Linked DNA regions of Homo sapiens: regions 2 and 3 are each reported to be linked to region 1. Evidence: microRNA targets listed by miRTarBase, many of them from high-throughput screens and not tested one by one. Region 1 holds a microRNA gene; each other region holds the end of a gene's coding sequence. Distances are between the middles of the regions.

The links. The annotated mature microRNA hsa-miR-106b-5p reads UAAAGUGCUGACAGUGCAGAU and lies in region 1 at 2,247-2,267, shown strand. An mRNA with a match to its seed (bases 2 to 7 or 8) in the 3' UTR can be bound and repressed. Matches are read on the target gene's strand: a 7mer-m8 pairs with bases 2 to 8, a 7mer-A1 pairs with bases 2 to 7 and ends in A, and an 8mer does both.
Region 2: the mRNA of RBM41 is a reported target of hsa-miR-106b-5p. Seed matches in the 3' UTR shown: 7mer-A1 at 271-277.
Region 3: the mRNA of AGFG2 is a reported target of hsa-miR-106b-5p. Seed matches in the 3' UTR shown: 8mer at 1,153-1,160.

Annotation. Positions count from the first base shown.
Region 1 is chr7:100,093,171-100,096,309 of GRCh38, reverse strand. It overlaps MIR106B (microRNA 106b), which reads left to right and starts at 2,236; the gene lies at 2,236-2,317. It overlaps MCM7 (minichromosome maintenance complex component 7), which reads left to right. Exons shown (of 15, transcript NM_005916.5): 11 at 143-536; 12 at 840-923; 13 at 1,969-2,137; 14 at 2,909-3,018. MIR25 (microRNA 25) reads left to right here and starts at 2,667; the gene lies at 2,667-2,750. It overlaps MIR93 (microRNA 93), which reads left to right and starts at 2,463; the gene lies at 2,463-2,542. RefSeq lists an enhancer at 309-809.
Region 2 is chrX:107,064,885-107,068,047 of GRCh38, forward strand. It overlaps RBM41 (RNA binding motif protein 41), which reads right to left. Exons shown (of 8, transcript NM_001324242.2): 8 at 1-2,809. The coding sequence ends at 2,643. Among named protein-coding and RNA genes, the nearest start is that of RBM41, 52 kb to the right of the region's middle.
Region 3 is chr7:100,564,424-100,567,586 of GRCh38, forward strand. AGFG2 (ArfGAP with FG repeats 2) reads left to right here. Exons shown (of 12, transcript NM_006076.5): 12 at 509-3,163. The coding sequence ends at 568. Among named protein-coding and RNA genes, the nearest start is that of SAP25, 7.9 kb to the right of the region's middle. RefSeq lists an enhancer at 3,148-3,163.

The DNA.
Region 1 (3,139 bases):
TCCTCGGGCATCTCAAGAAGGCCTGGTGGAGGGAGTGGAATGATCCCAGCGCAGGCCTCGCCTCCCTGGCCCGTTTGTTGTCTTTTGCTTGTTCTCTTTCTTGTTCTTTCTCTCTCATGGTTCCTTATTTCTTCTCTTCCAGGCCAGTACACAACAGGCCGGGGCTCCTCAGGAGTGGGGCTTACGGCAGCTGTGCTGAGAGACTCCGTGAGTGGAGAACTGACCTTAGAGGGTGGGGCCCTGGTGCTGGCTGACCAGGGTGTGTGCTGCATTGATGAGTTCGACAAGATGGCTGAGGCCGACCGCACAGCCATCCACGAGGTCATGGAGCAGCAGACCATCTCCATTGCCAAGGCCGGCATTCTCACCACACTCAATGCCCGCTGCTCCATCCTGGCTGCCGCCAACCCTGCCTACGGGCGCTACAACCCTCGCCGCAGCCTGGAGCAGAACATACAGCTACCTGCTGCACTGCTCTCCCGGTTTGACCTCCTCTGGCTGATTCAGGACCGGCCCGACCGAGACAATGACCTACGGTGAATGAAGCTCAACACCCAAAGAGAGGTCCCCTGTAATGATCTGTGTAGGGAGGAGGAGAGGTGAATCAGAAAACAAATTCCACGCTCCTGGAAACCCCAGAGCCTCCCCTTTGCAGCAGGGGCTGGTCCATGGTTCTCAGGGAAATGGTGGGTTGGGGCTGAAATGCTGATGAGGATTTCCCGGGAAAGCTTGTCCCTCCTACACTGTGAGGAAGTGGCAGAGCCAAAGGAGGGACACCTAAGAGGACATGGGTGCGTAGCCCTAAAAAGGGTGTTCCTTCTAACCTTCCCTCTGTCCAGGTTGGCCCAGCACATCACCTATGTGCACCAGCACAGCCGGCAGCCCCCCTCCCAGTTTGAACCTCTGGACATGAAGCTCATGAGGTAGGAGAGCTGGGTGCGGGTGGGCAAACGTTGGCGTGGGCCGTGCGAGCCTCCTGAAAAAGTGCTTATTAGTCTTAGGGTGTGTGTTTTTCACACCACCACTTCCCGCTACAGACATGTCCAGAGCCTCAGATCAGCTTTTAAGTGGAAAATTCCACACTTCATATCATAGGGACACAGGAAATTTTGTTTCCTACACTATTTATTTTTTTTGAGACGAAGTCTTGCTCTGTCACCCAGGCTGGAGTGTAGTGATCTCAGCTCTCTGCAACCTCTGCCTCCCAGATTCAAGCGATTCTCCTGCCTCAGCCTCCTGAGTAGCTGGGATTACAGGCGCACGCCACCACGCCTGGTTAATTTTTTGTATTTTAGTAGAGAGCAGTTTCACCATGTTGGCCAGGATGCCCACCTCTGCCTCCCAAAGTGCTGGGATTACAGGCATGAACCACTGCTCCTGGCCCACAAAAATATTTTTAATAAAATTACCTTCAGGTTATGTGTATCAGTTGTATATGAAATACAGGTGAATTTCATGTTTAGACTGGAGTCCCATCCCCAAGCTATCTCATGCATATGCAAATACTCCAAAATTTAAAGTTTAAAACACCTGCTCCCAGGCATTCTGGATGATAATCTCTATCGCTATTTTCCCATGAGCCTCCAGTGTTCTTTCCGGTTTTTACTCCCTTTTAAATATTCTGTAAACAGTTCTCTTTAAATAAAATATATGTTTTGCCATGTCATGCGCTCAGAGGAGGGGTCTGGATCCTCTCTTAATGACAGACGGATTTGTCTTACAAAGGCCATTTTCCCGAAAAAAATAGGAAATAACTTGGAGGATACTGGTGGGGGCTATACGTTTGGTGAAATCCATCAGTGATATTCAAGCCAAGCAAATAATCACCCACTAATTTGTGTTTTCCACTTAAAATTCTTGGAGGGGACCATGTTAAATGGGGAGCCCTGGTACAGAAAACAACATGGGCTCATATTCACTCCCTTCCCCATCTCCCTCTTCTGCTTCCCCATGAACCTTCCCCCACAGGCGTTACATAGCCATGTGCCGCGAGAAGCAGCCCATGGTGCCAGAGTCTCTGGCTGACTACATCACAGCAGCATACGTGGAGATGAGGCGAGAGGCTTGGGCTAGTAAGGATGCCACCTATACTTCTGCCCGGACCCTGCTGGCTATCCTGCGCCTTTCCACTGCTCTGGTAAGTGCCCAAATTGCTGGAGGGCCATCTGTTTTGACCCTTAAAGGGGTAGCTCCTTACCGTGCTCTCATTGCCGCCTCCCCACCTCCCGCTCCAGCCCTGCCGGGGCTAAAGTGCTGACAGTGCAGATAGTGGTCCTCTCCGTGCTACCGCACTGTGGGTACTTGCTGCTCCAGCAGGGCACGCACAGCGTCCGTGGAGGGAAAGGCCTTTTCCCCACTTCTTAACCTTCACTGAGAGGGTGGTTGGGGTCTGTTTCACTCCATGTGTCCTAGATCCTGTGCTACAGACCTTCCTTTCTGTCCTCCCGTCTTGGACCTCAGTCCTGGGGGCTCCAAAGTGCTGTTCGTGCAGGTAGTGTGATTACCCAACCTACTGCTGAGCTAGCACTTCCCGAGCCCCCGGGACACGTTCTCTCTGCCAATTGTCTTCTTGGCTGAGCTCCCCAAGCTCCATCTGTCATGCTGGGGAGCCCAGTGGCGTTCAAAAGGGTCTGGTCTCCCTCACAGGACAGCTGAACTCCGGGACTGGCCAGTGTTGAGAGGCGGAGACTTGGGCAATTGCTGGACGCTGCCCTGGGCATTGCACTTGTCTCGGTCTGACAGTGCCGGCCCAACACTGCGGATGCTGGGGGGAGGGGGGATTCCACTCCTGTTTTGTGAGTAGGCGACCCATGGGCTGCCCAGCCTTAAAGCCAGAACAAGGGTGTCCCCTGACCTCGTTCCACTGCCCTCCTCCCGTTCCCATCTTTCCCCCCTACCTTCCCCTTAGGCACGTCTGAGAATGGTGGATGTGGTGGAGAAAGAAGATGTGAATGAAGCCATCAGGCTAATGGAGATGTCAAAGGACTCTCTTCTAGGAGACAAGGGGCAGACAGCTAGGTGAGTGGTTTAGTGAAGGACAAAGCTGTGTCACTTTGTCTTCTGTGGCCATGTGTCTGAGGTTGGCCTCAATTCTAACACTGGCCACCATTGTTCTCTGTTGATGTCGAGCATTCCTGTT
Region 2 (3,163 bases), not on the chromosome of region 1:
TTTTATGGACTTATCTGTTTCTCCTTTCCTTTCAGTTTTTGCTTCATGTATTTTGGGCTCTACTGTTAGATGCATATATATTTATAGTTGTTACATCTTCCTGATGTATTGACCCTTTTATCATTGTAACATTTTACTCTTTATCTCCAGTAACATTTTTTTAAGTCTATTTTGTCTGGTATTAGAATAGCCACTCCAGCTTTCTTATGGCTGTTGTCTGTGTGATATATTTGTTTTCCATCCTTTTACCTTTAATCTCTTTCTATCTTCTAAAGTGTGTCTCAAATAGATGGCATGAAGTGGAATCAGACTTGTTTCTGACATCTCTGCCTTTTATAGTATTGCTTAATCCATGCACATTGTTATTTTGATATAGGAAGACTTATGACTGCCATTTTATTGTTTTTGATATGCCTCAAGCTTTTTGCTTCTCCATTCCTTCTTTTGCATTATTTCATAATGTGATATTTACATTTAATAATATTTTTGATTTTTTAAAAGTTATTTCCTCAGTGGTTGCTCTAGGGCTTACCATACACATCTTAACTAAACAGAATAGGCTTCAGATAAACACTAACTTAATTCCAATGTAACAACCCTATTCCTATATAAACCCATCCCCCGCTTTGTGGTATTATTGTTATATATGTTATTCCTATACATTACAAACCCAACACACATTATTATAATTACTTAATATAATTTTACATCTTTAAAAGAAGCTGAGAGAAGAGTAAGTATATGTTTATAGTTTTTTTATATTAAACTTATTTCCTATTTCACGTTCTCTCCATTTGTTCCTGTGGATTTGTCTTACCATCTGGAGTCAGTTCTTTAGTACAAGACAGTTTTGCTTCCACTCAGCTTCTTCAACCTGTTATCGGCAAATATATTATATTTTATACGTTATAGGCCAAACGATGCAACTATATACATATTGTTTTATACAACTGTGTTTTACATTAGTTAAGAGAAAAAAGAAAAATGCATAGATTGTTTCTGATAATTACATAATTATTTTTGCCTGTGCTCTTTTTCTGCATGTGTGTAGATTCAGATTACTGTCTGTGGTCACTTGCTTTCAGGCTGAAGAACTTCCTTTTGTATTTCCAGCAAGTCAGGTCTGCCAGCAACAAATTCTCTTGGTTTTTGATTATGTGAGATGTTTTATTTCACGTTCATTTTTGAAAAATAGTTTTATTGTATATAGGATTATTGGTTGACAGTTATTTTCTTTGAACACTTTGAATGTGTTATTCCACTGCCACTGCCATTGTTTCTGAGGGGAAGTCAACTACTAATTTTATTTGGGTTCCTTGGTAAGTGATGGCTCATTTTTCTCGTATTGCTGTTAAGATTTTCTTTTCGTTTTTGGGTTTTAGCATTTTTCTTATGATGTATCTGTCTGTAATTTCTTTTTCTTCTGGGATGTATAGGTTAATGTCTCTCATCAAATCGGGGGTATTTATAGCCATTATTTCTTAGAATATTTTTCTGCTCCTTCATTTCTTTTCCTTTTTTCCTGTACTCCCATTAGAAATATGTAGGAATGCTTAATGGTGTCACACAGGTTCTATACTCTTGTTCAATTTTATTCATTGTTTTCCTTTCTGTTCTTCAGCCTGGATAATATCTCAGTTCATCTTCACAACCCAGTGAGGTAAGTAGCATTATTATCCTCACTTTATAGATGAAAAATGTGAGGCTCAGATTAAGTGACTTGCCAAGGTCATAGAATGTTAAGTGTGGCTGTACAGGTCTGACTCCAGTTTGTACTACTTCCTCTCTGTATATTGTTTTTTTATTTTCCAGCAACCATAAACAAACAACTGGGGGATTTGTGACTGGCATCCTCTTTTCTAGAGAACGCTTTATTTCCATTTCCGTTTGGCATTCTTTGCTTGTATGTTCCTCTTCTAAAATTCATATGCCTAATATTTAACATATATTAGACACTTAATCAATGTTTATTGCTATGAATTCAATGATACTCAATGGTTGCTAGCTTAAATGGCTGTGAGAACACCAACATTTTGATCTAAAATATTTCACTAGAAAAATATATAGCTTTTTGAAGACTGATAACTTGTGGAGGAAGCATTCATTAAATAAGTCAACTGACTTATGAAACTACCTACTATTACTGCTGATAGTTCTGACTTAATAGCATTTGTTGATGCTTAGGCCTGGGGGTCCTACTCTTTTATTTACTAGGTGGATGAAATATGGCAAATGGGCTCTAGTAAAGAAATATTTCAACATTTAATTAGTTTTTTATTTCTGTGTATACGAAGCAGTCTAAGAAAGAATGTTATCTCTAGAGACAAATATTGAGGACCCCAGAAAAATTATAAAGATTTTTAAAAATCCTTAGGAATAATCCGTTGTAATTCATCCTGAGAAAATAATACTCTTTGCACTTTACCCTTCATACTCAGCATATCATCTGTCCTATATAGTCTTCAATTATATAATAGAAAATGTTTTCTACCAGTTCTCTCCAAAAGCTGAAATTACTTTTTTCCCCTCCCTCAGTTAGTTTTTCCTCTTCAACTCCAAACAAACTGGTGTCTATACATAAATCCTAGATCCAAGATTCCAATTCAAGAAAGACCATCCAGGACCCACAATTTATATATATTCTAGCTACCACTAATTTCTGTAGTGCTACCTGTAGCACATGATATGAGAGAAGTCGCTTGGAGATTTGACCGTTGCTTTTTGTTCTTTCCAAACTCTATCACCAATATTTTCCCATGTAGTTTGTATCCATTTACTAGATGCAATGCTTGCCATGCTATCTCCTTATCTAAAAGAGAAAGAAAAAATTTCAATTTACATAGGACTTAATAATTCAATTCTATTCCAGGTTTAGTTTAGATTATTTTGCCTTGGAGTTAAATGTAAGCTATAAGGCCATATAGTCATTTGATTTGATCATTTTTTCTATAATCTCCCATTTGCATTATTAAGCAAAATTAAATTAATGGCAAAAATAATAACAATAAAAACTCAAAATCGGTGTTTGAGGGTGTCTCCTAATTCAAAGAAACAAGTAGAGAAACAAAGACATAGGCAGCGTGCTAAAGAAGTCTAAGCTATTAGTAATTATACACAAGTCTCTATCTTAGGTAACAGATTATAGGTATTATTAGAATCAATC
Region 3 (3,163 bases), 470 kb from region 1:
TCCAAGCCAGGGCTGAGCTTGGGCCTCAGCTCTTCTGGGCACTGGCATCTCCCATGCTGTTCCAGCCCTGCCCTTGGCTCCCTTCTCCCTCACTTTCCTTTTTTTTTTTTTTTTGAGACAGCCTCACTCTGTCTCCCAGGCCCAATCTCAGCTCACCGCAACCTCTACCTCCTGAGTTCAAGCAATTCTCCTGCCTCAGCCTCCCAAGTAGCAGGGACTACAGGTGTGCACCACCGCACATGGCTAATTTTTGTATTTTTAGTAGAGATAGGGTTTTCCCGTGTTGGCCAGGCTGGTCTTGAACTCCTGACCTCAGGTGATCAGCCCACCTTGGCCTGCCAAAGGGCTGGGATTACAGGCATGAGCTACCGTGCCTGGCCTTTTCTCCCTCACTTTCCCACTGCCCTCAGCATAGCGATTTTTCAGGAGAAAGGACTCCTGGCTGCCTTTCTTCTAAGCTTCCAGTTCCTCTCCCCTAACTGGAAAATGTATTGTTCTTTCTTTCCAGACTGGACCCTCATCAAGCCCATTCGCCTCCAAACCTCCAACCACCAACCCCTTCTTGTAGCACTGTGTTTTTGGGGGGCCTCTTCCCTGCCTTCTGGGGCCCCTCTGCTCCCTAGAGCTCTGGTGACCACTTGCCTGTGGGCATTTCTATGGGCCTTGGGGATGGTGGAGGTGCTAATGCTTTGCTTGGGGCCTACAGGTGAAAGGTGGCTGCCCTCAGATTCCACAAAGCCTCTCTCCCCTCCCTCGTCCCACCCCCACCCAGGCAGGAAGCCCAGGAGGAGTGCGGGCAGGGCCTGACCTGGAGGAGTGATGGTTGAGGGGGAGGGATTTTTTTCAAATGATCAGTCCCCTGTGGAACAGCTCTTCCCTGGGCCTAGCTCGCCAGCGCTGTGCTCCTCATGGACGGGAGCGCAGTGGGGAAGGTAGGGGAAAGATGAGGCACAGTGTTGATGGGGCAGTGACCAGACAGTCCTGAGACCCAGAAGGCCCAGGTGGCCCAAGTGCTCTTGGTGGCCCAGCTTGGCCAGCACACACTTTCCTCCTGCAGCACCCCCTGCTGAAGGGGTCCCCCATTGTTTTGCTTCCCCAGCGCCCAGGATGAGCGGTTTACCATCGAGCTTACCCGGGCCCGGCTCCTGTCAAGCACTTTAGTTAGCTGTTGGTGTCATGTTTGGATACCAGTGTTTTATATTTATACATAGAGAGGATTTTCTAATATAGCCTATTATATATAAATAGATCTATCTATATGCACATACATACATATATACACACACCCAGCCGATCTCCCGCTCCCAGACTGCTCTCGTATGTGGGGAATGGGATGAATCCCCATCTGTGCCTCGACCATCAAAGCCGGAGCTCCAGGGCTGGAGGGGGGGCAGCCATGTGTCCTGACCCCCACCATCCCCAGAGCCTGGGTTTTCCAGGGAAAGGCTTTGTGCAATTGCCTGGTCTTTTTTTTTTTTTTTTTTTCTCCATGTGCCTCCCTGTCCCCAAATCTCTGCACCAAAGCTCATTGCAGGCAATGTTGGAAAAGAACTGCATTTGAACGAAAGAGAAAACGGCGCCTGTGGTTTTGCTTCAGGCCACTTTGAGGGGTTGCAGGTCAGTCAACATGACTGATCCTTGACCTGGCTCTGCTGGGCTGGACTGCCTGGGCCAGTGATAATGCTGCCATTGGCCAGAGACAGGGCAGAGCCCGTCCCTGTCTGAACAAGAGTCCCGCATTAGCAATGAGAAGAAGCGTGGCGGGAGAGGAGCCACCACTGCCGGGGACTGGAGTTTGTTGGATGTGAGGGGAATGCCCACTGGGGCCAGGGTGGGCAAAGGAGGTTGGTGCCAATGTGGTGCTGGAAGTAGACCCCTCCTGGGTCTGGAACATTCTCTGCCCCAGGCTCTTTCCACCTGGGGATGTTGTGACAACATCCAGCTGTGGTGTCTGGGCTATTTGTGTGGTGACAAGACAGACCTGGTCAGGGGGTGGGTGGCAAACACCTCACCTGGCTGGGCAGAGGCCACCTTGCTGTTTGGCCCAAGGCCAGGTGAGGCCCCTCCCTTTCCACCATTGCCCTGGCCCCGTGGCCATTCATTCTTGGGGTTTGTCTGAGTCTTCCACAGAGAGCAGCAAAGAGATATGGGAGTTGGGTGATCAGTGTATTTACTTTGCAGATTTTTCTGGAAATAACCTCTAGCTGCTGCTATTTGCAAGGCTGGGATTGGCCTCCCTGTCTTTTCCAACAATCAGGACCCCATCCTGTCTGTTCCTGTTCTTCTCCCAGCCTCTGCCCTCCTTCTGTCTCCTGGGTGGTCTCCCGCTTCGCTCCTGGCCTTTGCATGTTCCATCTCTTCTCTTTCTCCCCTCTTCGCCACCCTAGATTATCTCTGTGTCCCTCTACCTAATTCTCTTACCAGTTCTTTCCTTTCTGCTTAGAGCCGGAGGGAGGGAAGCTGGAATCTGTTATGGTGTATTAGGGGGAGGAGCCTTTCTGTTATTTCCCCCCAGCTTCCATCACCCTTCCCTTAATGCCAGGAGCGCCGAGGTTTGGAACTGAGGCTAAACCGAAGGGCTTTCTCCTGCTTCTGTCACCCTGTGCTGTCTCCCGGCATCTCCTCACTATCTGGGTCCAGGCCCGGGTCCTCCCTGCAGACTCCCTCCCCTCCAGCCCACAAGGACTCCAGCCTGCTGGCTGGTGAGAGCTGGATGAGCAGTAAGAAGTTAACGCCAGGTCAGCCTCGGGCCCCAGGGTTCCCTGGGCACAGGCTGACACTAGGAGCTGCTCTCCTTGGCCGGGGACAGCTCCAGCAGCTCAGGCTCCAGCCCTCCAGTGAGCCGCCTCTCCTGGAGAGTAGCAAAGAATGGAGAAAGGCCTGGCTTGAGAGGAAATGGAGAAAACATTGCCTGGTAGCTGCAGATTCAAACCCACCACACACACCACGGGGCTAGAGTGACTCACCTGGGCTCACACCAACTTCTGGCCAATGCAGGGACCATGCTCTGCAGACAGCAGTCCTCTAGCATGGCCCCAGCATTCAGCCAGTCGGTCACCTGTGGGCCATCCCCATGTGTGAGGAAGCAGGAGTCAGCCACCAAGTGTCTCCACATCGGAGCTTGCGGGTCAGACCTGTGGGCCAGGGGATGGGAGCAGGGCTG